Regions from separate parts of the Homo sapiens genome. Here region 1 is linked to region 2. Evidence: fine-mapped expression QTL. A gene starts in region 2. The other region holds a variant in brackets. All regions are shown on one strand. Distances are between the middles of the regions.

What was found.
Region 1: its variant is fine-mapped to the expression of DPYSL4 in whole blood (INTERVAL, PIP above 0.99).

What each region holds. Positions count from the first base shown.
Region 1 is chr10:132,136,693-132,152,002 of GRCh38, reverse strand. JAKMIP3 (Janus kinase and microtubule interacting protein 3) reads right to left here. Exons shown (of 24, transcript NM_001323087.2): 7 at 14,853-14,984; 8 at 14,714-14,749; 9 at 13,825-13,884; 10 at 11,424-11,552; 11 at 9,955-10,083; 12 at 6,813-6,896; 13 at 6,423-6,485; 14 at 3,953-4,051; 15 at 2,493-2,591; 16 at 1,962-2,021. Among named protein-coding and RNA genes, the nearest start is that of JAKMIP3-AS1, 42 kb to the left of the region's middle. RefSeq lists enhancers at 3,713-4,675, 5,097-5,596, 5,597-6,098, 8,661-9,507, 9,508-10,355 and 1 more. The variant G/A (reference allele first, on the strand shown) is at 6,966.
Region 2 is chr10:132,179,068-132,194,377 of GRCh38, reverse strand. It overlaps DPYSL4 (dihydropyrimidinase like 4), which reads right to left and starts at 7,430. Exons shown (of 14, transcript NM_006426.3): 1 at 7,276-7,430; 2 at 3,543-3,631; 3 at 1,536-1,720. The coding sequence starts at 7,314. It overlaps JAKMIP3 (Janus kinase and microtubule interacting protein 3), which reads right to left. Exons shown (of 24, transcript NM_001323087.2): 24 at 9,520-12,021. JAKMIP3-AS1 (JAKMIP3 antisense RNA 1) reads left to right here and starts at 7,626. Exons shown (of 4, transcript NR_184044.1): 1 at 7,626-9,413; 2 at 10,056-10,181; 3 at 12,834-12,917. RefSeq lists an enhancer at 6,210-6,711.

The DNA.
Region 1 (15,310 bases), 42 kb after region 2:
TCAGGGTGACTGAGGGAATCTACCCAGATGTGATTAAACCACAAGTTGCATGTGAAGTCAACACTGATTGCACAGCCAGGCTTGAAGGGCCACTGTCAGCCCACTGTCAAGAGCTCCCCAGCATCTCCACAGGTCCCCTGAGCTTAAGCCTGGCCATGAGCCCTCCAGTATCCAACCTCCTCTGTCCCTGGGCTCTGTGACAATGGCCTCAGAGGCTGCATGATGACTGCAGGGCTGTCACACTCAGTGGCACTCTTGGTGGACAGCTATGGGGCTGGGCAGGAACCCTGAAATAGGCCTGGGTGGGGCTGGGTACCCCCAACTCTGCCACTACATCAGCTCTGTGACCCTGGGCAGTGCCTTTGGGGACTCAGCTTCTCCAACTGTGAATCAGAGTTGCCCAATACAGTTCCCAAGACCTCATGATGGGGCTGATACCCAGGACTGGACCCCAGAGATGTCAGGTCCACGGCCACCCTGCTGTGGCTCTTCGGCCACCTATGACCACAGTGGAGCCCCCAGCTCTGAGAGAAGCAGACCCACACCCAGAGCCTCCCTGCTGAAAGTACCCCTGCCCTGTGCCTCACTGCTCCCCAGGGGCTGGGCAGGCAAGGGGAGAAGGGAGTCCTCGGATGCAGAGCACTGGATGGAGGAAGTGGAAGGTCAATGAAGGTAGGATGAGGGATGGATAGATGGATGGATGGAGGGAGGGGATGTGGATAGGTGGAAGGATAAAGGATGAAGGATGGAAAGATGGATAAATAGCTTATGGAGGATGGATGAATGAATGAATGATGGAGGATGCATAGATAAATTATGGAGGGTGGATGGATTGATGGATTTTGGAGAATGGATGAATGAATGGAGGATGAAGGAAGGATGGATGGAGAATGAATAGATGGATTATGGAGGATGAATGGGAGATGGATGGATGGGTGAAAGGTTAATGGGTAGAGGATGGTAGATGGAGAAGGAATGGATGGAGGATGGTGGATAGAGGACAGATGGAGGATGGAGAATGAATGGATTAGGGATGATGGATGATAGATAGATGGAGGATGGATGGACAGATTGTGGATGATGGATAAATGGATGGATTAAGGATGATGGATGAAGGATAGATGAAGGATGAAGGATGGATAGATGGATTATGGAGGACGGATAAATGAATTGTGGAGGACAGATAGATGGATTATGGAGGATGGATAAATGAATTGTGGAGGACGGATACATGGATTATGGAGGACGGATACATGGATTATGGAGGACGGATAGATGGATTATGGAGGACGGATAGATGGATTATGGAGGACGGATAAATGAATTGTGGAGGATGGATACATGGATTATGGAGGATGGATGGATGGATTACACAGGATAGATAGATGGATGGATATAAGACAGAGCATGAATGAAGGGCTAGGTAGATGGTGCATTGATGGGGAATAAATGGATGGAGAGCAGAGGATTAGTAATGGGCGGATGAAAATTGGGATGAAGAGGTGCATTATTTTGCCCACTCAGTAATTAACATTCTTTCAAGGAGTTTGCTATAGAAATTGGAACTCTGCCCCAAATGAAATTTAGGAGTTATCTATAGAGTCTGCTTTTCCCCCAAGCCAAGGAAGTGGAACCCCTAAGGGTCTTGGTTTGTCTAAGAGCAACAGCCCCCTATCCTCATGGCAAGTATGGAAGGGCTGAGAGATCCCAGAAGCTGGGCAATGTGATGGGAAGTGCCATCAGCTGGAAGAACCAGGTGTGCACAGCAGAGGCCCCAGTGGGCCCTGGAGCAGTGTGAGGAAGGCTCCGATTCTGAGCAGGCTCTGGGCCTAGTGGAGGGTCTCAGGCAGGGTGGCCCATGGCAGGGCTGTGGGAGGCTGGCAGGGCCTCCTGGACCCCAGAGGGGCTGGGCTGGGGGTTGTGGGTGTAAGAGGCATGCACAAGCCAGGAGAGCGACATACACTTACGGCGTTATCGCCCAGGATGTCCAGCTTCTTCATCAGCTCCGCAACCACAATGTCCTAAGGCACAGAGGACAGGTAGGGGTGAGTGGCCACGGGGTGGGCAGAGGGGGTGGGGAAGGACAGGGCAGGGAAGGGCGGAGGGGAGGTGGTGGGGGTGGGGGAGGGGGAGGGGAGGGGCAGGGGTGAGGTAGGGCAGGGTGGGGGCAGGGGTGAGGTAGGGCGGGGTGGGGGCAGGGGTGAGGTAGGGTGGGGTGGGGGCAGGGGTGAGGTAGGGCGGGGTGGGGGCAGGGGTGAGGTGGGGCAGGGGTGAGGTGGGGGGGTAGGGGTAGGGTGGGGGCAGGGAGGGGGTGAGGTGGGGCAGGGAGGGGGTGGGGCGGGGGTGGAGAGGGTGGGGCGGGGGCGGAGGGGGTGGGGCGGGGGCGGAGGGGGGTGGGGCGGGGGCGGAGGGGGGTGGGGCGGGGGCGGAGAGGGGGTGGGGCGGGGGATGGGTGAGGTGGGGGCGGAGTGGGCAGGAGGGGCGGGACTCACCGTCACACCTTCGGCCTCGCAGTACACCTGGAGGGGGCTCTTCCCGTCCACGAAGGGCGTGTGGTGGAAGCTGATGGCGGGTGACTTCCTCTCCCTCTCCTAGGACAGAGGGACAGAAGGGTGAGCCGCTCCCCTCCCATCCCTTCCCTCTAAGAGGACTGTGCTGGGGCCTGAGGAACACGGGCCAAGACCATGGAACCAGGGATCAACACAGCATTTATGAAAACCAAACCGCAGCGGCAGCAGTGGTGGCAGAATCTGCACTGGACCTGGACCTGCCCACAAGGACTGCCCCTGTATATTCGCTGACCCCAGATGTGCCGGGCAGAGTTCATCACACTCTGGCCACGTGGCCTGGGCAGTCCCACCCTGAGCCCACGGGCACATCCCTCAGTGAATCCCAGGGGCTATGGGGAGGATCAGGGGAGGGGCTGCAGGTTGCATCCCCTTCAGGTCTGACCAGAGGAGCCTCTGGAGAACACAGGCTGGCAGTGCTGCCACTGTCCCCACAGGCAGGCCCACGTGGCCGAGGTCGTCCACACATGGAGTGACCACACAGCTGCCCTGTCCTCCGGCAGTGGACGGGCAGACTCTTAAGAGGCGGCTCCAGCTGGACTGTGAGGCTCCAGGTGCTGGCCTGAGACGGAGGCCTCGGGGCTGTGTGTGGTGCTCGGCAGGGGCGGCCCCTGTGTGGGCCACTTCCTCCCAGCCCCACAGGTGGACCACCCTTGCCGTGAAACAATCACAGCGACGTGGCTGCCCACACCCAGCCTGAGCTGCCCGTGGGATTCCCCTCCTCCCTCCTCCTGTGCAGGTCATGGCAGAGGACACAGGGCCAGGGATGGCAGGGCACAGGCAAAGGGCTCCCAGTCACCGCGTGGCCCCCACTGTCCTCACTCAGGGGCAAGAAACAAACGTCTGCCGACGGCGGAGGCCTGGACAGAGCCCCACACCAGCTGCAGCAGGGCCACGGGGGCGGATGGAGGACGGGCGGATGGAGGACGGACGTGCCGGCTCCTTGGGGGTGGATGGAGGACGGGCGGATGGAGGACGGGCAGATGGAGGACGGACGTGCCAGCTCCTCACCCCACAGGTCTGGAGCAGATGCTGCACTGTCACCCGTCGTGCTTTTGTTTTGTTTTCCCTGCATGACACTGAGCGCCACGGGCCATTTCCCCCATATTTACACGTGCTTTGGGCGGCTGGCCTCATCCTTCGTATGAAGAGGTGGTCCCTGCCTGACACTGAGCTCCATGGCCCATGTTCCCCATTGGATGTTTGGACGGCCGGTATGAAGAGGTGGCGGTTTACGGCCATTTGCCTCTTTCCTCCCTGACGCAGCCTTTTGGGTTCATGTTCATGTTCATGTTCATGTTCAGGGCTTTGTGTGGGTTAGGAAGGCTGAGGACTAGATCCCTGACACAGCCACAGGCCACAGTGCTGGCCATCCACTCAGCTACCTCAAGCTCCAGGATCCTGAACTCCAGCAGCTCGTTTTGGTCTCTGGCGTCCTGCACCTCGTGTCTGAGCCGAGCCTCTTCCGTCTCCATTTGTTTGATCTGCAACATAAAAGATGCATGAGGTGAGGGGTCTGGTTCTCTCTCACCAGAGGTCTTGGGAGGTCAACTCCAGGCTGACGGGACAGCTGCTGGCTGCCGGGGAGGCCGGCTGGCCTGGTACCCAGCCCTGGAAGCGCCTCACAGCCCTCGGTATGTTTGGGTTTGTCCTAGTGAGATAGCCTAGCCATCCGGTGGTGGGTGGGGCTGGGCAGGCAGCACCGCATACCACAAGCCAGGAGCCTGGCGATCATATCGGGGCCCTGAGCTTGGGTGGCCCCTGGACAGGGATGTGGAAGGGAGGCCGTCAAGGATAAACGTCTCCAGCAGGGGCTGTACATCACAAGCCAGGAGCACGGGGGCCTTAGCGGGGCTCTGAGCTAGGATGAGGAAGGGAGGCCGTGGAGGGTAAATGTCCCAGGTGGCTCCCGGGTGCCCCTTGGAGCCCAGGCTGTGCCCAATGGAAGGAGCGGGTACCACGGCTGCCTGGCCACCGGAATTCACTTGGCTAATTAAGGAGCTGTTTAAACGGAACCAGTTACGAGTAAACCGGATGCAGGAGTCCCCCACCCCTTCCAAAGGGTCAAGTGACACGGCCCACGGCATGTGTCCTCAGCAGCCTCATGAGGGCAGGGGCCACCAGGGGCAGACAGCTGTGTCCATCCCCTGAAGCTGAGCTCCAGGGACTGAGGGACCTGCTCTGATGCTCAGGGGACCAAGATAAACTCAGAAGCATTGCATCCTTGGAGTGAGCCGGCTCAGTGGGAGCTGGACCCCCTTGCAGGGCCAGCTGTGTACTGCTGCACAGTGGGCCTGCCGTGGAACACCTGCAGGGCCAGGAATGTGATCTGCACCCAGTGTAGCCAGAAAAAAGCATGGCTCCAAGTGTGCACATGCGCATGTGTGTACGTGCACAAGCATTTCCATGTGCGTGCCAGCATCTCTGTGTGCATGTCTTCAAGTGTACATGCCAGCATTTACGTGTGTGCGTGTTCAAGTGTGCACGCAGGCATTTACGTGTGTGCGTGTTCAAGTGGGTGCCCTTAAGTGCACGTGGATCTCTGCCTGTGCCGGCATTTACGTGGCACACACAGCACTGTGCTGAGCCCTGTGGAAACGCACTTCTAATTTAAGAGATGTTCCGTGTGTCCACGGGAAACATGGGGGTGTCGTTCGCCATTCAAGATGCAAACCAAGCCTAAAGCAGGACCCCCAGAGGGCACGACCAGCCCTGGGCTGGCAGCAGTGCAGAGTCTGCATTGGACGCCTCTGTTTGTCTGAAGCTCTGTCCTGTTGGCACAGATCAGACTCATCAGCCAGGCTACCCTAGCTTCTCCCCAGAGGGCCGCACCTGCCAGCGTGAGACATCGCTGCCTCCTCAGGACACCTGTCCCTGCCCATGGACAAGTGGGGTGGGGGTCACACAGAGCACCCCTCACCTGTGCGTGGTAATGACAGCCCTGCTGGCCTTCCTGCCCCTGGACCCGTAGCCAGCCCCGCCCCTGCCTCATGCCACATCACCTGCTCCCACAGTTGTGAGGTGCACCCCTCTTGGGATGGCCCTGGACTGCCCAGACCTAAGTCTAGGGCCCTCGGTGCTGTGACTCCCTCTTTAACCCAGTGCAGGGAGCAGCTGAGCCAGGTGGGCCTGATGTGGTGGGAGGTGCCGAGAGAAACCTGCACTCCCTTCCCTGCACCTCAGGCAGAAGCTAAGGCCACTGAGAGCAGCCTGGCCACACATCGCATGTTCTGATCTGTTTTACGTCTGATAGTCTTCCAGACCACAAAGCCCGGGCCAGGGTGGGGGTGGGGGTGGGGGTGGGGGCGGGGCAGCACTTCAGGAGCCTCTTGTCATCTGGGACCAAGAGAGCCTGGACCTGGGCCTGCCAGGTGACGCCTTGCCGAAGTCTCAAACACGCACTTGCTCAGCCAGGCTGGTCCATGGGCTCTTCCCCGAGGACTTCAGCTTCCCCACAAGCGTTGCTGGAAGGAGACTTCCCTGACCCAGCCAGGCTTCCCAGGGGGATGATTCTAGTGGTCTCAATAAAGCTCCTCTGTCACGATGCTCTAACCAGCCCACCCACAGAACCATCAGCACAACGGGACACGAATGGAGATGCTGCTGCAGATAGGGGCCTGCCCGGACCCAGGAGAACAGGACCCAGGAGAACAGGCCCCAGCTCCCTCTGTCCAGGCCATCCTCCTCCCCAGGGCTCCTGATGGGGTCCCGCAGGAGGGAGCAGAGCAGAAGGGGCCTGGGACAGCCATTCAGAAGCCTCAGCCCTCGCTCCATCCTTCAGCCCCGCAGGGACCACTGCAACCCCCAGGAGCATAGAGCGAGTCCTGCCAGGGCCTCCAGGGGTTCGGGGCTCACCTTTTCCACAAGCTCTTGATTTCTCCGGTACAGTGCCTGCTTCTCTTCAATCCACTTCATATCCTTGCAAATGGAATTGAAAGAAATAAAGACACTGAGGGAGGAACTCATAAACCAACGTTTAAATCGTGATGTGGCAGAACACCAAAGACCAGTCTGGCCAGCGTGGCAAAGCCCCGTCTCTACAAAAAATACAAAAATTAGCCGGGCGTGGTGGCACATGCCTGTGGTCCCAGCTACTCAGGAGGCTGAGGTGGGAGGATGGCTTGAGCCCAGGAGGTCAAGGCTGTAGAAAGTTATGATCGCACCACTGAAGCTTGTCTTTAGGTACAGCCAAATACCTCCCACCCACGTGTGCCCCCACGCCCGTGCAGATGGCTGCAGGCTCACCTGCCCCTGCTCCGCCAGGGCCTTCTCCAGGTCCTCTATCCGCGCCTGTGCCCTCTGCACTTCGGCTTGTAGCTGCTCACGGGTCTGTAGGACGGGAGGAAAGATACATCAAATTTTCTCTAAAAGCTGGGACAGACAGCACACACACTCGTG[G/A]GACGTCAGAAGGGTCTGTCTTTTGGTTCAGTTCATTGAGAAGTGACTGTTCGCCCTTCCTTTGGAAGAGATGCTTTCTAAGAGAGGGAGAACTGTTTTGTTTTTTTTTGAGACAGGGTTTGGCTCTGTCATCCAGACTGGAGCTCAGTGGCACAATCTTGGCTCACTGTAACCTCCGCCTCCCGAGCTCAAGTGATCCTCCCACCTCACCATCCTGAGTAACTGGGACCACAGGTATGCACCACCACACCCCACTAATTTTTGTATTTTTTGTAGAGACGGGGTTTCACCATGTTGCCCAGGCTGGTATCAAACTCCTGAGTTCGAGCAACCCACTTGCCTCAGCCTCCCAAAGTGCTGGGATTACAGGAGTGAGCCACTGCGCCCAGCCCTGGAGGGAGAACTTTAAGGCTTATTTGAAGCAAGAGATCTCACTTAGATTCTAAGGGGAAATCCTGCAGGTTGATTTTGAGAGCCTGTTAGGAGAAATCTTTGTTTACAGGATGACACAGCCAATGAGGATGACTGAGGCCTAGCGTGTGCTCAGCCCTGCCAGGTGCCGGCCAGAGGGCTTTGTTCGAGGGACTCTCCACATGGACCCGCTGGAAGCCCCGGGTGGTGCCGCTGCCTGTACTGGAGCTGCCCCTCTGGAAGCCCCGGGTGGTGTGGCTGCCTGTGCGGGAGCTGCCTCAGCCCAGGGCTCACTGCCTTCCTGAATTCTGTGTTCCTTAACTGACTCCCAGAGCCCGCCCCACATCTACAGGAAAAGCCCTGGCGCTTCCCCCGTCCGCATCCTGGTTTGTGAAGTCCCTCCCGAGTGCCACCGAGGCTTCTAGCCGAGGTCTGAGCCACCTCCCTTAATTCACTTTGCTGTGGTGGCTCCGAACCATGGGGCCACAGTGGCTCCTGCTCTCTCTGGGGATAGCTTCCAAGGGAGAGGTGCGTTTCGGGACAGGACGCAGGGTCAGAGGATCCATCAGCCGGGGTGGGGGGTGGGCGAAGGCGTGACCTGTGGTGCCCGCCCCCGAGTGCTTGGTCCCAGCTCCCTGCCCCCAGGCCGTCCTGGGCTCCTCCCATCACCCCAGCCTCTTCCCTCCCTTAAGGGGTCACAATCGTGGATGTGAGCCCTTGGGTTGGAGAATGCTTAGCAGAGAGGGAATTCCAGTTAGTCCTAACCCTGTTTCCGGACAGGGAAACGGAGCCCACAGAGGGCTGTGGGCCCCCTGCAGCCTCAGGACCGTGGCAGGGATGGGCCCACGTCCATGTCTTCAGACGCCTGTCCTCTCCTGCCCCCTTCCTTATCCTGAGGCTTCCTCGATTTCCACAGTGAGGAGTGACATTTCCAATTATAATACAGAATCAGACTGTGGGATGCCGGCTAGTCTATTTTCTTCATTAATCTTTTCTGTATCTTCTAGTTTTTAAAATAACCATGCAGCACTTCTCGGCATCAGATTTTCCTCTGATTCTAAATGACATTAAACTTTTTTTTACATGCAGTTTGGACATTTTTACTCTCTAAGCAAAGCTTCTGAGTTCTTTGCTTCCATGTGGCCCCCGAGCAAATGTTTCTCTGGCACCCGACAGGAAAAAGGGAAGACAGGATGCTTTCTCCAGCTCCTCCAGCTCCTGGCGAGCTTGGCCAGGAGGATGCGGCTGTTGCCCCGCCCCCGCTGTGAGGGAGAAAGGCTGGGCCCATGAGGCTCTGGGATGTCTCGGGGCTGCTGTGCTTTATGATGCTCTGAACCGAGGCCTTGACTTTTTCCTTTCTCCAAGGGTCATGCAAAAATTAAGTCAAAGTGAAAGAGGCGATATTTAAAGTCCCCAGTTACGGAGACAAATCTCTCCGAGCCTGAGGAGGGGACGCCCCCTCCAAGGCCAGCCCCCCCCACCCCGACTCAGGACAGGAGGAGGGCACAGAGGGGTGGAGCTCTCTCTTAGTTTTCACAACAGACGTCCCCAATGAGGTGCCAGGAAGGCAGGAGGGAAACCAGCCACGTCACCAGGGCGGTCTGGGTGGACAGAGGATGAGGCTGGCGGCTCCCTGGGGCACTAGCGTGGACCACGCTGGGGATGCTCTGTGGACACTCTCCCCTCGCCCCAAGAGGTCCGTCCCCCACCCAGCTCAGCCACCCTAAGTTGCAGAATTGCCAGACACTGGCATCTCTGGCCCTGCAGGGTGGTTTTGGGGTGGGGAGGCCAACGGGAACCCCACACCCCACAGCTGCCTGCTCTGGAGAACCCCTCAGCTCCCCCGGAAAGCAGCCCGTCTCGCTGTGAGGGGTACCAGGTGCAGGTCCTCCAGCGGCTTCCCCTCCGAGCCTCAGTAAGGGAGGGTGGGGCGGCAAGAGGACCCCCGACCCATGGCCCACGCTCTCCCCACGAGGCCTGGTGCCTGCACTGCCCTCCACGGCCCGCAGAGGGCACCCGCCAGCCACACTGAGGCCTTTCCTGGGGGACGACGCTAAGGTGAGCCAGGGAAGTGGGCGGAGGGACACGGCTGCTGGGGTGCTGCCCAGTGGGGAGGCCGGGGGAGAGGGGCCGGGGCCGGGGCCGGGGCAGGCACAGCCTGTGTGAGCTCAGCCTTTGAGGATGAATGACCTCCACAAGTTTCAACACCGAGCTCGATGCTGCCACGGGCCATCGCCATGCTGCCAAGAGTGGAAGAGGTGGTCTGGAAGGAGGCCCACCCTGGGCGCTGTGGGCCCCTGCCACCACTACCACCCCGCCTCCCCCAGGACCCTTACTCACACCTGTGCCTGGCACCGCTCTGGGCCAGTCCCTCCCACCTGGGCCAACTCCCAGCACCGGGATCCCCAATCCCTGGTTTTGATCGGCTTCCATGGGCACCACCAGGACTGCAGGCAAGGGCAGGAGAGGAGGGGCCCGGGCCCAGGAGGGCTAGTGAGGGGGGTGTCCCAGCCCAGGCCACGGGGTCAAGCGGGAAGGCACGAGGGGGGCCGGAACGCGCGGTGGAAGTCACGTAGACCTTAACTTCTCGCTCTGCGTCCAGCGTCCCTCCAACCTGCTCCTGCAACAAAGCGTAGGCACGCTGCAGGGCCTGGTACTCCATGGTCAGCTGCCGGAACCTCAGCTCCGTCTCCTCCTTGGCCATGCCCTGGAGAGACACGGATGCCACACACGCACAGAGACACAGTGTCAGTAGCCAGCACCTCCTCCGATGGCGGGGCCCCGGGGCTTCCCTTCTCCCCAGATATCAAATGGTGTATGGGGGGGTCTCTCTAGCAGCATGAGGGAGGGGACCTGCTCCAGTGTGCAGGGAGGGGCGGCTGCCTGGGGACTCAGTGCTGTTTGGAGAAAGGTTTCCCTGGGGAGGGGAGCACCGAGCCCTGGGGTGGGAGCTGAGTCGGCTGCACGGCTGAGGACAGGGTGAGCCTGCTGGGCTGGTGGCCATGGCCAGGGGCTCAGCTGGGGCTCCTGCTTGCTAGCCAGGCTGCCCTGACCCAGCAGACCCTCTGTTACCAACCAGGCCTGCACACGCTCTGCTCTGCTGAAACACGTCCTGGGAAGAAAGCTGGGCTTTGTGAAGGGGGTAAAGTACCCCAGGCAGCACGTCTCCTCCCAGGTGCACTCTTGCAGGCTCACCCTGCTAGCTGCAGTGCCCCCCGTCACCCCAGGGAGAAGACAGGTGAGCCTGCTGCTGCCTTCAAAGGGTCCCGGTGGACCCCCGGGGCTGGAAGGGTTGGCCACGTCTAGGAGTGACTGAGCCCAGAAGCCTTGGCCTGGCCCAGTTCCCCTGCCCAACCCTGCACCTGAGGCTGTGAGAGGATGTCTTAGATCCCTCAACAGGTCTATGGCCATTGGGCCACCCTCCAGGGTCTGCCACGGGAGGCCCAATCCTTGGCTGTGCCATTGACTGCAGACCCCACTCCTTGTCCCACAGCCACAGGGTCTGGGTCCCACAACACCAAGCCCCGACCTGGTGCTGAAATGGCTGCCTGCGCCTGAGGGTAGCCGTCCTTCTGGAAGAAGGGGCTGGTGGGCAGACACACCTGTGCTGTTATCAGAAAGAAAACTCCTGCTCAACACCCCTCACCCTAATGTGCTCTTGGCACTGAGACCAAACTCCCTGATGAGTGGTTCAGACCCTCCTGGGGAGGCCCCTTAGGAAGGGAGAGCTCACCGTACCCCTATGCAGAAGGGGCGTAGGCTCAGTGGCAGAAGGAGGCATGGTTTGGCCTTCATGGGAGCAAGAGCGGGCCTCAGCCCACACCCCAAGCCATGTCATGGGAGCTTCTCACCGTGCCCGAGTCAGCTATCAGCGGGTCAGTGCCAGTGAGGGCCGCGAAGGGCTTCCCCGTGAAAAGCCGGCAGCCCATGCCCAGCCAAGCCCAGGACCCGGCAGGAGACCCTCGTTACCTCCTCCAAGCCCAGGACCCGGCAGGAGACCCTCGTTACCTCCTCCAAGCCCAGGACCCGGCAGGAGACCCTCGTTACCTCCTCCAAGTCATCGTCCGGGGTGCACGGGGTCTGGTCCGTCCTGTCTGTTTGGTAAGAGACGGAGGAGCCGTCGGATTCCAGGGAAGCCTCTTCGTCGTATCCAAAGAAGGTCTCCACAACCACCGGCTTGTGACCAAAATGCGACGTGTCAGTTCAAACCAGACCCAGGCACAGCCGCCTCCTCCCGCCGCCTCCTCCCGCTGCCCAACGGTGGGGGCCGCAGCCCCACCCTGCGACACACTCCCATCTCTGTCCCTGGCACAGGCCGAGGAGGTGGCCTGGGTGTGAGGGGCGCTCTATGGCAAGGCTGGCAGGGCGGGTGGGGAAGGGGCCTGGAGTCCCGTGGGTGAGCGGGTCCTGGCCCTGCCCTTGGTGGTGGGGAATGAGGCCCTTCGTGGGGCACCGTCCCTGCGGTTCCCTGAGGGTGGTACCCGGGTTAACAGAACCGACGATGGGTGCCTTCCCTGTGTGATCTCATTCCCAGTGATGCATTTCTGTTCCATTTTTTAAAGTTTCAGTCCTTGACTGATTGGAATACAAACAAAAACGGGGTCCTCCGCCAGCTGGTGTGAGAGGCCCTGCCTTTGGGGACCCTCCAGGTTCACCCCGACGTCTGCATCTTTAGGGCCCCCTCACCCCTGCCTTCAAGAATCGAAGAGGGACTCATCTGGGTCCCCTTCAGAAGTGTTACAAAATGGAAAGCCCGCCATCTTCTTCAGTCCCTTCTGCCGTGGCCACAGTGGCCTCCAGGTCTCCTCCCAGTTCTTCTGCCAGAACCTTCCAGCAAAACTCCCTCAGGGACCCCAGGGCCACCCGACTTCCCCTACTCCCCGCCAACCACTGGCCCCTGTCCTGTGTGCCTCCCCACACCCTGTGTCCTCCCTTCACAGGGCCAAGGCGTCTGCTGGACACTTCCAAATCCCAGAGGGGTCCCGAGCGGGGAGAGCCTGGACAGCTCCTCCTCTCCACCTTTCAGAGGGCAAGTGTTTGTGACCGAGGAGCATCTCACAGTCTAACAGCGAGAAAACACTGCTGACAGCTTACAAGCCACACACACACTCACACTCACACATACACACTCACATACTCTCACACACACTCACACATACACACATGCAGACACATATACACTCACATGTACACACAAACACACACACACACTCACACATACACACTCACATACTCATACACTCACATACTCACACACGTACAGACGCATATACACTCACATGTACACACATACAAACACACACACATACACATACACACTCACACACATACACAGATGCATATACACTCACATGTACACACATACACACACACACATACACACACAGATGCATATACACTCACATGTACACACATACACACACACACTCATACACACACATACACAGACACATACACACATGTACATACACACTCATACTCACATACACATGCACACACACACAGATGCATACACACACATGTACACACATACACGCACTCACACACACATACACATACACACACACACACACACACTCAACATAAAGCAGGAGATGAGTTAGGTCCTTTGGCAGCTGCTCCAAAGCCTCCCTTAATAAAAATCATAGGTTTATCACAAAGGATTCTACTGTAGAGAAATGATGACAGGTGTTCACATTTCCTGGGGACGTGGGTCTGCCCTGTGGGGCCTGTGGATGAGGCTGCCACAGCCTGCAAGTGTGGCCGAGGACGGTGAACGGCAGGACAGGCGAGCGTGGGGTGTGTGGCACAGCCAGGATGGGTGAGTGTGAGCAGCCTCAGCCGCCCGTCCTCAGAGCCGTGCATCCCACAGGTCGTGGGGACTCGGACCCTACACAGGCAGTGAGGACACCAGAGCCGGCACCTCTTCATTGCTAGTGTTGCTGGTATGGTTGTTACCAATTCCTATCTTCTCTTGGAAATTTGAAAGAAACAAGTTTATTAAAAATGATAAACAGAATATTTTCTTTGGGTCCTATTTTGGTCATTTCACAGTAACAATTTTTAGAAATAATAAAATTGTTTTTTCATCTCCAAAGACTGATTCCTACTAAGCACACGCCAGCACGCTCTCCACACACACCAGCGCTCTCCACACACGCGGGCGCGGTCCTCGGCACACACACCCAGCGCCCTCCACATACACCGGCGCACCCCTCTCCGCACACACCCGGCGTACTCTCCACACACGCGGGCGCGGTCCTCTCCACACGCACCCGGCATACTCTCCACACACGTGGGCGCGGTCCTCGGCACACACACCCAGCGCCCTCCACGTACACCGGCGCACCCCTCTCCGCACACACCAGCGCTCTCCACACACGCGGGCGTGGTCCTCTCCGCACACACCCGGCGTACTCTCCGCACGTGCCGGTGTGCTGTTCCTTACCTTGGGAAGTTTTGCCATTTTCTTTCTTTGCTTCCGGAATCTTAACAGCTTGTCCCGCTCCTGCGGAAGCCAGTTGAAGAGGTTGTGTAAGTGGTAGAGCAGCTCCACCGGTTTCAGTCCACGGTTTACTGCCCGTGTGCCATCATTTGGATGACAGGGAAGACGGTGTCTGGGCTGGCTTGTCCCCACACCACAGCGGGAGGCCCTGGCTCCAGCTCTGCTCCTCGGGGAGCTCCTGTCTCCAGGGTGACACGGACGGCTCCCCAATTAGGTGGGCTCTGAGCTTGTCTTGCTCAATGGTCTACCAGCTCCCCTTCTAAATGCGTCCAGGGGCCACACGGGGCAGGTGACTTGAGGGGCACACAGTTGTGGGAAGCTGGAAGGGGACTCATGGCCAGGGCCCCTCCGGACCCTGCAGGGGTGGCGTCCACATCTGTGTGGGGACTGGCGCCCTTAAAATACTAAGGAGACCAGGGTCCTGCTGCTCTCCGGGGAACCCATGCTGTGGTTTCATGGCCGTGATGGTGAACCTCTTGGGCTGCGGCTGCCTGTCTGTGCTGGCCAGGGAGAAAGGCATGGTGGGGTGAGCAGCCGGAGAAGGGCAGCCGTCTGACCCTGGCCATTAACTGAGAAACATGATCGTCCCAAGCTGGTGCTGTCTCAACTGGGGCATCAGTGGGTGTCCCTGGCTCCTCTCTGACCCACACTGAAGGGCGTCAGCCACCCGTGCACAGCCTTGGCCAGGTGGCACTGCAACAACAAAATCCACCCGAAAGGCTGCCGCGGCCGCTTCTGTCTGGTCTGTGAGGAGCCCTGGGCACAGAATGGGTCCCACGGGCAACTGCGTGGGGAGCGGAGGCGTGGGGAAGCGGGCGCTGACCATACTTACTAACACGCTCTTCACGTAGCCGGCGGTCTCAAGGGTCTAGGAAAGGAAGACAGCATGTTACGGAATTGCTCAGGGTCCCTGTTAGCCAAGCCCCTTGGGAGCCAGAGGACGGGGCCGCAGCAAACAGCCCGCCGGGTACCTTAGACAGTTCATCTATGAGGTTTTGCTGCTCCACAATCTGAAGCTTCAAGAAATCGACTTCTCTCTCATCCTGACTTTGATCAAGGTCATTCAAGGAACTGGGTCTCCGTATGATTCCAGCTCTCTGTCTCTGAAACGCCAAGCAGCCCACATCACAAGTTGGGGAGTGAAGGGGTCTGGCTGAACACAGTGGGTCGGCGGGGGGGTCTTCTCCCTCAACCCGGGCTGCCACTCTCAGCTGCCCGGCTGGCGGCCTCTGCTCAGGCCTCAGAACAGCCCAGCTGCAGAGTCCCTGGGGAAATGAGGCCTATGTGGGCCCAGTCCTGCAGCAAGGGCAGGTGTGTGCAGCCCGGACAGACACACATGGGCCCTGCGGGTCTCCCAGAAAGCATGGCTGGAGGGGATCGCTCACAGCCCTGAAGCTGACACTGGGTCATCTGTGCCCATTTCCCATGT
Region 2 (15,310 bases):
GAAAGGGGCCATCCTGCCCCCTGCACACAGCCATCATGCTGCTGCCCCACCAACCACACACCCAAGGCCCGAACACTGCTCACTGGCCTCTCCTGGTGCAGCCAGACACAGCTCCAAGCCAGGTGGTCGGACAGGAGGGCGCACCCGCCAGGGATGCCTTCCTCCAGCACAGCCCTCCCTCGGGCCCCTACTCATCCCAACAAGATGAAGTGGGCACCCAGCCTCCCTGCAGCCACCCACAGTGCCAGCCTGGGCCTGCAGGCCGAGGAAGACAGAGGCAGGATAGAGGCCAGCCTCGTGTCTGTGGTGTTTCTCTGTCTTCGCGGGGACCCACAGCTGGCCGGGTGCCTTGGCACTGGCACGAGGCAGGTGGTCTCGACTGTGCAGACGTCCTGACCGGCTTGGGCCGCCCCCTGAAGGGCGCGAGCAGTGGCCAGTCTCCTCAGACTGCAAGATGGGCTGCTGCTGGTGTTTTCTCCCTTTGTGGCTGAGTAAACCAAACCAAGCTGTGATTTGGTAATGGCTAAATGTCCCGCGAGGTGTTTCAGGGTCCTCAGAGCTGCCCTCCCCGGTGTGCCAGGGACACAAAGCAACTGACGTGCATTAACTCACACATGCCTCAGAAGCTCATGAGGCCAGTGTTCTGTTTTACAGATCAACAAAGTGTGACTTATAAAAGCCAGCTGAGTTTATCTGGAGTCACACAGCTAGAAAACCATACAACCAGGTTCAGCTAGGCTCCTCAGACCCGTTCTCAACCACAGCAGCGATGTCTGTGCCAGACGGACGCCGCAGAGTGAATGGCACCCAAGGCCACACAGTGCAGTCAAGGTCTAGGCTCTGAGGCCTCGTCCTGCCTCCTGAGCTCACCACGTGCTCGTGGTGGGCAGGCGGACTCCACTCACCCACCTGTTAAACTAGGCTTAGCTGAGCCCAGCTGGGCTGAGCTCAGAGGGTTTTAGGAGGAGAGCATGTGAGCCGATGGGTGTCAGGATAGAGCCCGTGCCGGGCACGCAGCCAGCACTACAGAAATAGCAACTCGGGTTATTTTTTGATGGGATAATAATGAGCATTGCTTTTATCTTTTTCTAAAAATACAGTCTCCATCCTTAACTCTTCTTGACATGAGCAAGAACCTTCCAGATATGAAGCTTCCGAGGCATGTGGCTCAAGGTCAAACATGTATCTGGCATTTCAGACAGCATGACCCCTCCCCTCGCCCAAGGCATTTGAGTTTTCCAACCCCCAACTCCGAGCTGGCTACTAGTGCCCAGGGAAGAACAAGTGGACACACGTCAGTCACTGATTTCCAGTCCTGGAAATCCCAGGAGCATTCCAGCACTGGCCACACAGAAACACCCAGAGTGAGACACAGGGATTAGAAAAGCACTCCAGGTTCTCAGACAGATGCAATAAAGGCAGACAGCTGAGAAAGGCACCTTTAGGCGACACTCCTCCTCCCACACACACCTGGCCAGAGAGAGGGGCAGCAGACGCTGGCTGCCCCCTGTAGAGGAGGAGACCCAGACACTCACAGATCATGGTGGTTCCTCCTGCTAGCGCTGCCTTGGTGCCCTGACAGAAGTCGTCAGCCGGTGTCATGCCCAGGACAGGCATCTGCAGCCTTGTGTGGACGTCAACGCCACCAGGAAGGACCATCAGGCCGTGGGCGTCAATGGTCTTGATGCCCCCAGGGACGATGAGGTTTTCTCCGATTTGTCTGAAAGCAGCAGAGATTTCACTGGTTACAGGGAGCCCAGGTCAGAGCCCAGATGGGCTCCCAGCAATGCAGCAGAGCTAAAGGGTTTGCATGAGCTCCAGACCCCGAGGAAAAGGCCAGCACGGCCGGCCACTCACTGGACTAGCTCCTCGGGAGTGCCAGGGAGCAAAGCATCACTCAGCGCAGCTCAGGACGGTCACTGCAGGGTCCAGCCTCACGCAGACGCCACGCCCTGTGGTTTTCCACTCAGGTCCCTGGTTGGTACTTTTTTGACTAGAGGACGGAGCAGCTTGACAAACGGAAGCAGGTGCGCTAATAGATGTGGGCACCAGTATTTAGGAAGCACCTGCTATGAGCCAGGCACCATACTAAGTGCTGCGATGAACAAAGAAACGTGGAAGCTGGTGTCCTGCTTTCGCCCACAGCCACCCAACATACCTCTGCCCTCACCAAAGGCCGGGGCTCTGACAGTGGCCACCAGCTTACTGCTGCCAAGGATGGGTTTAGAAAAGAAGAAACCTCTCCCATGGATTTCACCCAAAAGTCAATGCCTGGATACCACGTGACCAGTGTGTACACAAGAGCTGGGAACTATTTTCACCTGCCTGGATACCACGTGACCAGCGTGTACACACGAGCTGGGAACATACTTTCACCTGCCTGGATACCACGTGACCAGCGTGTACACACGAGCTGGGAACATACTTTCACCTGCCTGGATACCATGTGACCAGCGTGTACACACGAGCTGGGAACTATGTTCATCTGCCTGGATACCACATGACCAGCGTGTACACACGAGCTGGGAACATACTTTCAACTGCCTGGATACCACGTGACCAGTGTGTACACACGAGCTGGGAACTATTTGCACCTGCCTGGATACCACGTGACCAGTGTGTACACAAGAGGTGGGAACATACTTTCACCTGCCTGGATACCACGTGACCAGCGTGTACACACGAGCTGGGAACATACTTTCACCTGCCTGGATACCACGTGACCAGCGTGTACACACGAGCTGGGAACATACTTTCACCTGCCTGGATACCACGTGACCAGCGTGTACACACGAGCTGGGAACATACTTTAACCTGCCTGGATACCATGTGACCAGCGTGTACACACGAGCTGGGAACTATGTTCATCTGCCTGGATACCACATGACCAGCGTGTACACACGAGCTGGGAACATACTTTCATCTGCCTGGATACCACATGACCAGCGTGTACACACGAGCTGGGAACTATTTGCACCTGCCTGGATACCACGTGACCAGTGTGTACACAAGAGGTGGGAACATACTTTCAACTGCCTGGATACCACGTGGCCAGTGTGTACACAAGAGGTGGGAACATACTTTCAACTGCCTGGATACCACGTGGCCAGCGTGTACACACGAGCTGGGAACTATTTGCACCTGCCTGGATACCACGTGACCAGTGTGTACACAAGAGCTGGGAACATACTTTCAACTGCCTGGATACCACGTGACCAGTGTGTACACAAGAGGTGGGAACATACTTTCAACTGCCTGGATACCACGTGGCCAGCGTGTACACACGAGCTGGGAACTATTTGCACCTGCCTGGATACCATGTGACCAGCGTGTACACACGAGCTGGGAACATACTTTCAACTGCCTGGATACCACGTGGCCAGCGTGTACACACGAGCTGGGAACATACTTTCACCTGCCTGGATACCACGTGACCAGCGTGTACACACGAGCTGGGAACATACTTTCAACTGCCTGGATACCACGTGACCAGCGTGTACACACGAGCTGGGAACGTATTTTCATTTTCGGCGGAAACTTACTTTATCAAGCCATCTTCCACGTGCACATCAGCGTAAAAGGACTGGTCGTCATTCACGATCCTCCCACCTCTGATCAGAAGGCGGTCACTCTATCGGGAACAACAAAGGGTAATTTTTCTCCAAACTGAGTTACTCAGTAACACTCTTGGTGCAACTCCTTCCTCTGAAATTATGACTGAAACATTCAGGCAAAATTTCTAGACGTAAAAACGAGCACAAAAGCCTGCAGCGGCTTACTATTCCCCAAGAAGTGGCACCAGGCGCTCAAAAACAGTTGCCCCTGGAAGTGCCACGCACGCCCCACAGCTGCTGCTCAGACCTCGCTGAGGGCAAAGCCCGTGTTGGTGAAAGTGTGGTAGTGCCACAGGTCATATTTATATCTTCTGATTTACCACTGGATTGAGGAGCCCCAGCCTGAGGTGGGAGGCGAACGCTGCCTCATGGCCTCCTGTGCAGCCTCAGAGATCCTGCTCTCCTCCACCCTGTCTTCCACCCACGCAGAGGAGGCTGGGAGCGGACGGAGCTGGACTTTGGTTCCACCCAAACACTACAGACCAGTGATGGTGCCAGGAGGCGGAGGCAGACAGCGCCCCCACAGGCATGGTCCCCACCCCAGGAGGCTGCCTCCCACTGAGGGGAGACCAACGGCAGCAAAAACACACGTGCACAGATCATCACAGTCGGTGACGAATGCGCAGAGCACAGTGAGGGCGCCATGGCAGGGCCATGAGAGAGGGGCTGGGAGAAGGACCTCTGGGGCCAGGGTGGCTGATACAGGGGCAAGGCAGACATGGCGAGCGTTCCAGCCAGGAAGCAGCCTGGCCTTGGGGCAGGAAAGGGCTTGAGCTGCCATCAGCAGACCTGGGAGGAGGCCGAGGGATGGAACCTTCTGGTGGGGTGGTGGTGCCAGAGGCAAGTCGGTGCCCAGAGCTTGGCAGGGGCAGGATATGTAGGCCTGGGGACTCCATGGCTGCCCCCTGACTGGGGGCCTTAAGCAGGTTTCAATCCTGGTTTGATGTTTTAAAGAGATCACCTTTGGCTGCTGTGTTAGAAAGTAGCTTGTGACAGGTAACAGTGGGAGCCGGATCATTGCTGGGGTGATTTCTGAGTGAGATGAGGGGCTCTGGGACAGGACTATGGGAAGGGACGGGAGGAGAGTGGATTCCAGAGAGGCTGGGAGTCAGGAGGGCAGGACTTGCTGACCAAGAGGCCATGGGGGTGATGGGGAAGAGATGGGGTGACCTCGGTTCCAGTGCAGCTCGGACGCACTCCCAGTGGGACACAGAGCGTCAGGCTGGTGAGGCCCGCTCTTTGTAGGTCAGCCCTGGCAGCACAGAGCTGTGGCGTTAGACAGGGATTGACTCCAGTGCTTGGCAGTCATAAATCCACTTCTAAGAATCCTACCAGATGGCCGGGAAGCAGAAGATTAGGCAGAAAGTAGGGTGTCACTGATGGGACTCTGCATGACCGTCAGAGGTGAAGATCTGACCTCATTGGAGAATGGGGGAGAGAAACACAAAAAAGGAGTGAAAGGAGGTGGAGAAGGACGCGCCCACGGGCTGGACTCGGCAACGCTTTTCCCTCCACCGTCTGGCGTGCGCCTCAGCACGCCCTGCAACTGACCCGGCAGGACTGACCGTCTGCATTTAACAGGGAGGTCCGGCCGCCTGCTCTGGGTTTCCAGGGCCCACCCATAGGTGGCCAGGGCCCTAGCCTGGGGCTAGAGCCTTCACGCACCGTCAGTCTGAAGCCAAGAGCATTAAACTGAAGTGCACAATTGGTAAAACTCTCAGAATGAGAAGGAGTTCATTATCTAGGAACTCCATTACAGGATTCACTGCTGACATCTAACTGTGGGGCTGTATTTTCAGGATCCCAGTGACTTGTCAACCTCTACCCCATAGTCTACAAACGGTTGGCAGACTATGCCACAGGCCAGACCCAACCCTCTACCTCTCTTCATACAGCCCTAGGCTAAGAATCGTTCTTGTATATTCACTGAAAACAATAACAAGAGTATGTCATGACTCAAAAATTCTATGAAGTTCACACTGCAGCATCCACAGATGAAGTTTTGTTGGAACACAGTGGTGCCCATCGACTTCCTAAATGTCCAGGACTGCTTTCCTGGCAGGGCCAAGCAGCTGAGACAGGAACAGCGTGGTCCGCAAAGCTGACAACATTTACTCTCGGGCTGGTTGTGGAAGAAGTTTTAGACCCTTGGTCTACAGAGCTGTCTGTTCCCAGCCGCTGCACCTCTCCTCCTCCTGCCCAGTCCCAGCTGAGCGCCAGGCTCAGCCCTGACCCGGCACCACCATGCATTTGCAGAGCCTCTGTGGCCGCATCAGGCCCTGGCTGCCTTCCCGGTGCTGTCCCTCTTCTTCACTTTCCACCCCTCCCAGGGGACCCACGCATTTTCAAGGAAGCCCTAGAAAACGCAACCGGGCAGAAGGAGGCTTGAGGAGACGTGTGGTCTGGGCTCTCTGCTCATAGGCGCCCAAGTGTTCAGGCACCCGCACTGAGACTGGGTTTGGAACCCAGAGGAGACGCAGCTGGGGTGTGGGGCTGTGCTCTTCTTACTGCACTCATCCGGATGGAGGTGAAAGTTCCCGGGAAGCAGCTGCCCCTCCGCACTGACATGGTTGCCTGACCTCCCCTGGGAAGGGGTCCTCCTGCCACCCCCAAACTCGACCCCCACATGCCAGCTGACTGGCAAGACCTCCTGCATCAAGACCAGACCCAGCCGGGCAGAACCCTCTGGAGGCAGCAGCCCCTCCCATCTGGAGAGGGGAGGGCTCCTTCCTCGCTCAGAGTCTGGGGGAGTGGAGCCCACAGCCCACGGCTCGAGCTAATGCCAGAGGTCAGACCCCACGGCCCTCCCGCCGAGGCCAAGTCCAGAGTCGGGTCTGGGACCCCATGGACTCCCCCGCCCAGGTCCTGCCGGGTCCCGAAGCCTCCTTCCTCCCACCCCCATCTCCCCCCGCCCGAGCGGGGAGGCTTTGTTTCTGGCAGAGCGGGACCTCCCGCGCCGGTGCGTGTGGGTGTTGGGGAGGGGTCTCTGCTCTCGAAGGTTCAGGGGCTGCCAGGGTTCCCGGCCAGTGGCCCTTGACCGCTCGCTTTCCTTGGAGTCGCTGAACCCAGGTTACTGGAAGGGTTCGGGGCCACCAGGGACTCCGGCCAGAGCGGCCGGGGCTAAATCGCTTTGTCTCGGACAAAGAGCTCCCGACGCAGCGCCAGTGCGTCCAAGGGGCGGGCGACCCACGGGCTGCGCCGGGAACGGCATCTCCCCGCGCCCCGGACCAGCCCGGGCCAACAAAGGGCCGCGTCCGCCCGCCTCGCCACCCGACCGCCGTGGGAGAAAGGAGCCGCTAGCGCTCCGAGGGACAGGCCGCCCGGCCCCGGGTTCTCCCCGGGCGCAGCCGAGGCTCCCGGAAGCCGGCAAGGCCGGGCAAGGCCGGGCAGGGCCCGGCAGGGCCCGGCAGGGCCGGGCAGGGCCGGGCCGGGCCGGGCCTGGGCGCCCCGCTCCTTAAGGGGGTCTGCGCGGCGCTAGCGGGGACTCTCGGACCCTGGGGCGCGAAGGAGCCGAGCAGGGAAGGGCGGGCGCCAGGACAGGGACCAGACGCAAAGGCAGGGACCCCCCACCCACGCACAAGACCAGGAGGGTCCGCCCGGCGTCCAGGCCCCACTCCGGGCGGCGGGCAGGGGGCGCCGGGCGAAGCGGGACCGGGCTCACCGTGATCCGGGGGATGCTTTTCTTGCCCTGGAAGGACATCCTGCTCCTGGGGGTCTCTGGTAGGGGCGGCACAAGCGGGGGCGGGCGGGCGGGCGGGCGGGCGGGGGGACGCGTGAGCCGGGACGCGTGCGTGGGGACGGCGGGAGACAGACTGCGAGCGCGCGGGGCCGCACGGCTCCGTTCCGGTCCCGCCCCCGCTGGGCCCCGCCCCCACCCCGGCTCCGCCCCCGGCAGGCCCCGCCCCCGATAGGGCCCGCCCCAGCCCGAGCCCCGCCTCACCCCGCCCATCAGCCCCGCCCCCGCCCTCAGCCACTCCTTCGCTTTAAAGCCCCCCCAGCGCTGGAACCGCTGCAGGGTCTGATCTCTGCACCCCGGGCCCCCGCGCAGACCCGCGGACGAGCGCTGGGTGGGGATTTCAACCTGCTCCAGCTGATGTGCGCGGGGTTTGCACCCCGGGGAGGCGAGGGAGAGAGTCCGGCCACGTCCTGCCAGGCCCCGCCCGCGCCCCCGCTGCCCTCCAGCGCGGAACCCAGGTCCCAGGAGACGCGAGGCGCCCAAGGCCCCGGGATTCCGAGCCAGTCAACCCCGGGCCGCGACGCTCTGGGAACCACACCCGTCCAGGAAGGCACCTTGGCCAAAGCCGGCTCCTTCGCAGATGACCCGGGCCAGGGTCCGAGCGCCAGGCTGTGACCCCGCGAGGCTGTTCCACGCTGGCCGCGAGAGACGGAGGGCAGGAGGGGCCCGAATAGGACAGAGAGAGAGAGAGAGAGAGACAGAAGGAGGCGCACGCGCTCCCCAGGGACCGGGACGCGGTGGTGGGCGGGACCTCGCGGGGGTGGGGGGTGGTCGCAGGACCCAGAAGGCTCAGGACCTTTACGGATAGGGAGGACCCCGCAGGGGGGAGCGGGGGAGCCCCACGCCCGGCGTCCTCCGGGTGCGAGGGTCTCGGGGAGTCCGAGCCCGGGCCCACGGCCTCTGTCCCGCGGCCACTACCTGCTGGGGGTCCCGGGCCTGGGCCACGCCGGGCTGCCCTCGGGGACTTGCTGCGGCCGTTGAGGGGTCTCCGCGCGCCGCGCAGACTCGCCTCCCAACCCGAGGGCCCGGGCGGCCGCCGCCCAGAGCGTCCAGCGGCAGCGTCTTGCTCTCGAAGGCGTCCTCCACGCAGCGGAACACGCAGCCAAGCTTGGGCCGGGCCAGAGGCCTCGCGGGCTCCTGAGGCTGCCGCGCGGTCACGGCAGGAGCGGGCGACAGAATCCGGTCTCGGAGCCTCCTGTAGCGAGGTCTGCGCGGCAGGTGCACTGGGCGGACCTGGAGGCCGCGCCCTCCCCCCCCGCCTCCTGCCGCCCGGCAGCGCTGCGCGGAGCTGGCTCTGTCCACGTAGCGGGTGCTGAACGCCCCATTCTGGCCCCTGGGTGCTCGCTTAGTCCCGGCCACGCGTGGCTGCTCGCCCTCGGGACACACTGGGCGCTGGGAAGGCCGGGCGGGGAGCGCGCACCGGAGAAACCGCTGTGGGAATCCCGGCCACATTTCCAGGCCCCTTGGGCCGTCCCACGCCAGACAAGAAAGCCCTGACTCCGAAACCCTGGGCGAGTGTGGAGGGCGCGCGGGGGTGGGGTGTACCCGCCCACGCAAACTGCTGCTGATCTCCCTTAAAGCCGAGTTAGAGGCTTGGGGCGAGACAGGAGTGACGGGCGATGCTGTCACTCCATCTGTCATTCTACCCAGCCTGCAGCAGCTGAATTCGAACCCAGAGACTTCAGGCCTTTGCGTTGTTACCGCAGTCCGCATTTCAAAGCCAGAGTTTGGCCACTGAGTCACCATGACCTCGAGTACTGGCGGGGCCCGAGCCAGCAGAGCTAGGTCCAGCAGCTTCCCACCCCTTCGTCCTCCTCTGGGCTCCCCCTCCCCTAAATGATTAATGCAATGTCTGTTACTCACCTGTGTGGGACCGTCCACGGCAAATATCACCAACTGTTCTTATGCACGTGCAGAAGTTCCGTCCCTTTCCTAACTGTCTGATCTCTTCCATGGTTCACATTTGACCAACAGCCACAGGAGGGAGCCTCCCAGGTGGTCGACCGGAGCCAGGTGCTGCCAGGCACCCGACTGCAGAGCTTGCCCTCCAGGTGATCTCGCAGGTGAGAACTGGGGCTTTCCTCCACAGTGGGCGGAAGGCGCGGACTCCGTTTCTGGTGTGCAGAGGCACTGTTCAGAGAATGAACTCAGAAGTGCAGAAATGGCTCATACGGCTTTCAGTTCAAACTTTAATACCTTTGAGGGGACTTTAATCGTCTAAGATTTAAAACATTTTTTATTAAAACTGTACAATAATTTACAAACGAGTAAAAAATTCTCTGGTATATATCATAGGAATCACAATACAAAAATATTTGTAAAATCTTGTAGATCACCATACAAACCTATTTTAGGCCTGTGAATACTGCTTAGCATGGAACGGAATGTCACGTGGTTAGAGGGTGACTATGAAGGGAGTGCCTGGGAGAATACACACACTACCTGGCATGCCGCCGTAAGAAAACAGGCCCGGTTAGTTTTTGCATAAATTTACAATAAAGCTTTTTAAAAAATATACAGTAAACAAATATATGATTTGATACCTATATTCACAATATGAGTTTCCTGAGGCTAAACTGAATTCCATTACTGTGATAAAACACACACTCTCTCTCAGGGTTTCAAGGATGGGATGACGGTGAGTTGGCGAATGCGTCAGTGCCTCCAAACCCACACTTGGGCACTCTCTTCTTTTTGACTTCTAGTATCGGTGTTCACAAGCCCTGTAAGGCACTCGGGGTATCCTGAAGGCTACAGATTCTGCAAGGGCAGAGACTTTAAGGAACAGCCATAGTCCTTCTCCAGCTCAAAATCTGGACCATGGGCACAAGGTAAACAACACACTGGTGTCAACAAAGGAATCTGCTATTTATGTGGATTTTTACTTTAGACAAACTAAAGTATCTATGTTGTTCTGTGTGTTGAACACAGAGTGTGATGATGTTAATATAATGTAAATGTTGATGTAACAGTACATTTCTGGCAACATTTCAGGGTCCTTCCTCTTGCCTTATTAGGGGGTGATGCATTCATACAGACTTCCCCTGTTAGAAGAGCTAGCAGTAAGACAGCCCAAGTACTTGGAGGAAATTCACTCTAGCCCATTGGTTTGGAAAAGAAGGTATAGCCTGCAATTTAGAAATGCACCTTATTTTTAAATACTTGAATTCTGCTGCTGCTCACTGGACCAGGAGGAGTCAGTGATAAATGCTCATATTTACCTTTTTGGGGGCAAAAACCCAGTTCTGAAATGCTGGGTATTGTAATCAGATGTAAAGAAGGTGCCTATGATAGACGAGTGAAAACAATGATATCTAAGGAGAGGAACTGACGCTCCAACTAGATGTGTGCTTTCAGGAATGGGGCAGAGACGCGATGCAGTTTGGATGTTATTCAGCACATTCCTTGCACCTTCTCCCGTTCCTATATACATACTTTTTACATATAAACAATTACAACTTCATAAGGATTTGGTACATATTTACATGCTTCTCTTTGCCGTATAGTTTGCCTTATTATTATTACAGAACTGTGATTAAGAGTGTCTGTGGTGGATAGAGGTGTATGAAGTGCTCCAGACATATATACAACATGCTAAACCATGATGACCCAAATAAACATGAGGGATGTGAATCTGGGAATGTGAGTTTCACTGCACATCTTTAGATCCGAAACAGCTGGCCCATGCAGCTGTTGTTCCCATGCAGGTACACATTGGGACCATGCCAGGAGCTCTCCCAGAGGAGGAGGCCAGGCTGGCAGGGAGCCAGGTAGAGTTACAACATATTTCTGGATGCCTGCATCGTAGAGTCCATCGGACTTCAACCCAGCGGTTCACCCACAGCGCCACGGTAGCTTTTATTAACACAAGGCTATTGTGTGCCATTCAGTTGTGAGTATAATAAATGTGCCAAGAAGATGCAGTCGTTAAAATGAGACAAAACTATGCACAGAGGACTAAACAGGATTTCAGACTCGAGACGCAAACCCCGAGGTCAGGCTCAGCTAGAGACACTGAACTGGCCCAGTATCTTGCCGAGTAAATCAGGAACTGTGGCTTGAATGACAACAGAAATGGATGGGTCTTTCTTGGACAAGTGCTGATTAATAGTGCATTTTCCAGCAAAAATCCTGCAGCCACCAAAGAAAAAGCATATCTGTCTGATACTATTAGCTTTTCCCTGATTTCAACCTAGGGAGCCATGCCTGGTCCGCAGCCACCGTGTCATCTGCCCCAAAGTCAGACATTTCTTCTGACACAAATATAAAATGAGCCTAATACTTCCAGACAACCCAGTCCTCCCTACGGCAGCTGAGTCGTGTCTTTTATACAATGCTGCCAGTAACAGTCACACCTGGCTGCACAGCTGGCTGCCTCAACTTCTAGGTGCCTCGAAATGGCTAAATCCCACGAATGGCTCTTCTGGTTGCGTGAAAACATGCATAAACGCATGCTTGTGCACACAAGTGAGCACACACACACACCTCCTGTCAATTCAGCTCTGAGAGCAGAACCTTAGCCCACCTAGGGTGGGAGGACACAGAAGTTCCATCTGCAGCCAGTCAGGCTCCATCCACAGGCTGGACGAAGCTCCCGGGCTGCGTCCCGGGTCTCCCAGCAGGAATGGAAATCACACCTAACGTTGCCTTCACCAATGCACTGCTTCCTCTCTGAAAAAGAGTGGAGAAAACGCCGTTTAGTGCGACGACCTGGGGAATGTGTGTGACCCACCACAGGTCAGCACTCAAGGCAGTTGGGGCCTTGACCAGGCACTGGCTCTGCACAGGATGGTCACTGAGCCAATGGCAGGCACTGCCCTCATGGGTCCAGCACCAGCTACAGCGCCACGTCCTGAGCCTCCAGCCCGGGAGACGCACCTGGCACCCACCGAAGGCCACACTCTCAGGAAGATGAGTCCATGCTCCTCACAAAGCCCCTACAGAAGTGACCTTGGATCTTTCTCACCATGTCTGGGCCAGCAGCCCGGTTTCTACCCAACTTCCCTCATTGCTTAGAAAGTGGGCCTCTGCTAAGTTCAAAGTTTTTATTACCTTTCCATTTTTTCATGTTTTTGAAGAAGTTATGAAGGATCTGCTTTTCACAAGGGCGGGCCCCGGATCAGTCCCTGGGGCATGGCAGCATCGGGTGGGAGGCCACGTGGGCTGAGGGGCGGGAGCGAGGGCACGCTGGGACAGAGGCAGAGGGGCGGGAGTGAGGGCACGCTGGGACAGAGGCAGAGGGCCCGGCCGTAGAGACACCACGGTTTTCTAATCTAGGAGAGGTCTGAAGAGCTTTTTGGTTTTTGATTTAACCTAACTTCTAAGTAAGAAGATATTACCTCAAACAGAATGAAAAATAAATGTAGTCAAATGACACATACATGTTTACTTCTTCCCGTATTAAGCGTTACAGTTGAAATCTCTGCTGCAGTTAACATAGTACCTTGTTCTTTGTGCCTTTAATCGGGTTCGTTTCTAAATAGGTTGTCCCGGAACCATCGATCTCTAGAAGGTACAGGAGGAAGGGGACCTGCCAGTCCAGCCCTCATATTTTACAGAGGGAAAAGGTGAAGCCCCATGTAAAACAGGGATTTCCCTCGGTGACACTTCCAGGCTGAGAAGGGCCGGGGATCTGGACACCTACCCAGAAACACTCCCACCCTGTCAATGCCTCTCTGAATTATGTGATCAACTGCCTGGAGTATGAACTAGGCACATGCAAATAGAGAACAGAGGTCTTGTTGAAAATATGATGCTGAATTTTAAAAACTCACTCCCCAAATTAAAGGAACAAGACCAGAGCATTTGGTTTCCTGTGGTCACTTGATCCCTCTCCAGAGCCAGCTGCTGCTCTCCATTGTCAGCACACTCCACTCACTGCCCTATTTCCAGAACAGGAGACTTTCTGCCCCATCCATGGCCGCAACATACCACTCACACACACACACTACATGTGCACGTACACACAATGCACAATACACATACCTGCACATGTGCAAACAGCACATACACACTGCACATGCATGTACACACAATACACTACACACACATGCCCACACAATACGCACAAATGCACTGTACATGTGTACACACAATGCAAAATACACATACAGGCACATGCAATGCACAACACATACACATACATGCACATGCCCAAAGACACCACTCACACACAGCACACACATGCACACGATATATACACACATGCATACACAACACACCACTCACAGCACATGCATACGCGCACACACACACACGCACACACACGCACACACGCGCGCGCACGCACGCACACACGCACACACACGCACACACACGCGCACACACACACGCACGCACACACACGCGCGCGCACACACACGCACACACGCACACGCACACGCACACACGCACGCACACACGCACACACACGCACACACACACGCGCACGCACACACACACGCGCACGCACACACACACGCACACACACGCATGCACGCACGCACACACACACACACACACACAGTTCTGCTTCCAGGTTTGCAGTCTTCCCAAATCCCTCCCGCCCTACCCCATCTGTTCCGTCTCTTCTAGGGAACGTGATCTTCTCCCTCCCACCCACCCTCCCCTTTCTGGGCACTGTCCCTCACAGTCAGCTGAGGACCTCATCCAAACTGGAGCCATGTCAGGCACAGGACAGGTGGGAGGCAGCCATCCATGGGTCTGGCCTTGGTCTCTGTGGCTCCATGGGGCTCCTCAATGCCCCCAAGCAAGCTCTGGCACCCCAGGGTCCTCACTCAAGAGTGTCTCTGTGGACAGGCCTGAGGCTGCTAGCTGCAGAAGTGCCTGCTTGCAACGGTGGCCATTGGCTGGCGTCTGGGAACTTGGCTTCGAAGCATTCCTTTAGTGAGGAGGTTCCTGCCTAGACTGTGCAAACAATGTGATTCATGGCAAACACCAGCCTTCCTTTTGAGGGCCTGGCATGTTAGTGGGTGGGGGGCGCACAACTGAGTAGCCCCCAAATCAAAACCATGAATTTTGGGTCTTAGCTGGAATTTCCCGAGCAGAAACACTGCATATATGGGGCTGTGTTTTGCTGCTGGAGGGAGTGTGTGCCCCGTGTGCACCTCACAGGGGGAAGAGCATGGGAGGGGAGAGAGCACAGGAAGTCTGCTCACAGGCCTCTCCAGGCTGTGCCTGTGAACTCTTCCCTTGCAGATCCAGCCATGCCTCCCGATTATAGGGCTGCGATAATGGTGTGGCTGTGCCATGGTGTGGCTGTTGTGGTGTGACCCTGCCGTGGCGTGACCCTGCTGTGGTGCGACCCTGCCGTGGTGTGGCCCTGCTGTGGTGTGACTGTGTGCTGAGTCCTGTGAATCCTAGCGAGTCCCCAGAGATGCAGGTGGTCTCGGGGACCCCCAGAACATCTGCTTTCACTGTTGCCTGGAAGTGTGGGGGGTGGGGGGAACATGGGGCTGCGAATTGCCTTCAGGGAGCGCATTCTTTTACGTACTTGGCCATTCACGTGGCAAATGTTTATGTGAGTGTATCAGTGCCACAGTAAGGGTTCCGCGGGAGAAACCCAGATAATCCTCATCCCAAGAGCTCCCAGTTCTCAGGGAGGGGGCAGGAAAGTGCTGCTCAGGTGGCTGAGCTTCGAGTGACAGGAGAGAGGTAGGATGTGGGGAGCTCAGGCATAGTGCAGGTGGAGCCCCAACCAGCTCAGAGCCCGGGGAGCCCAAAAGTCCCGTCAACAAATACAGCCCCGTGACCGTGCATGATGCTGGGGGAGGATGAGCACTGAGGGCCCCTGCCCTTCACGCTGGAGGGGAAAGCCTGGGTAATTTTATCTTGGGCTGCAACGAGGATAGCTGATGAAGTGTAGGAACAAGTTGACAACCACAATCATGAACTTGGCTCATTGGACAGTGCCAAGGGCGGCAGCAGGGACAGGAGATGGCAGCATGCCTGGGGCACCACC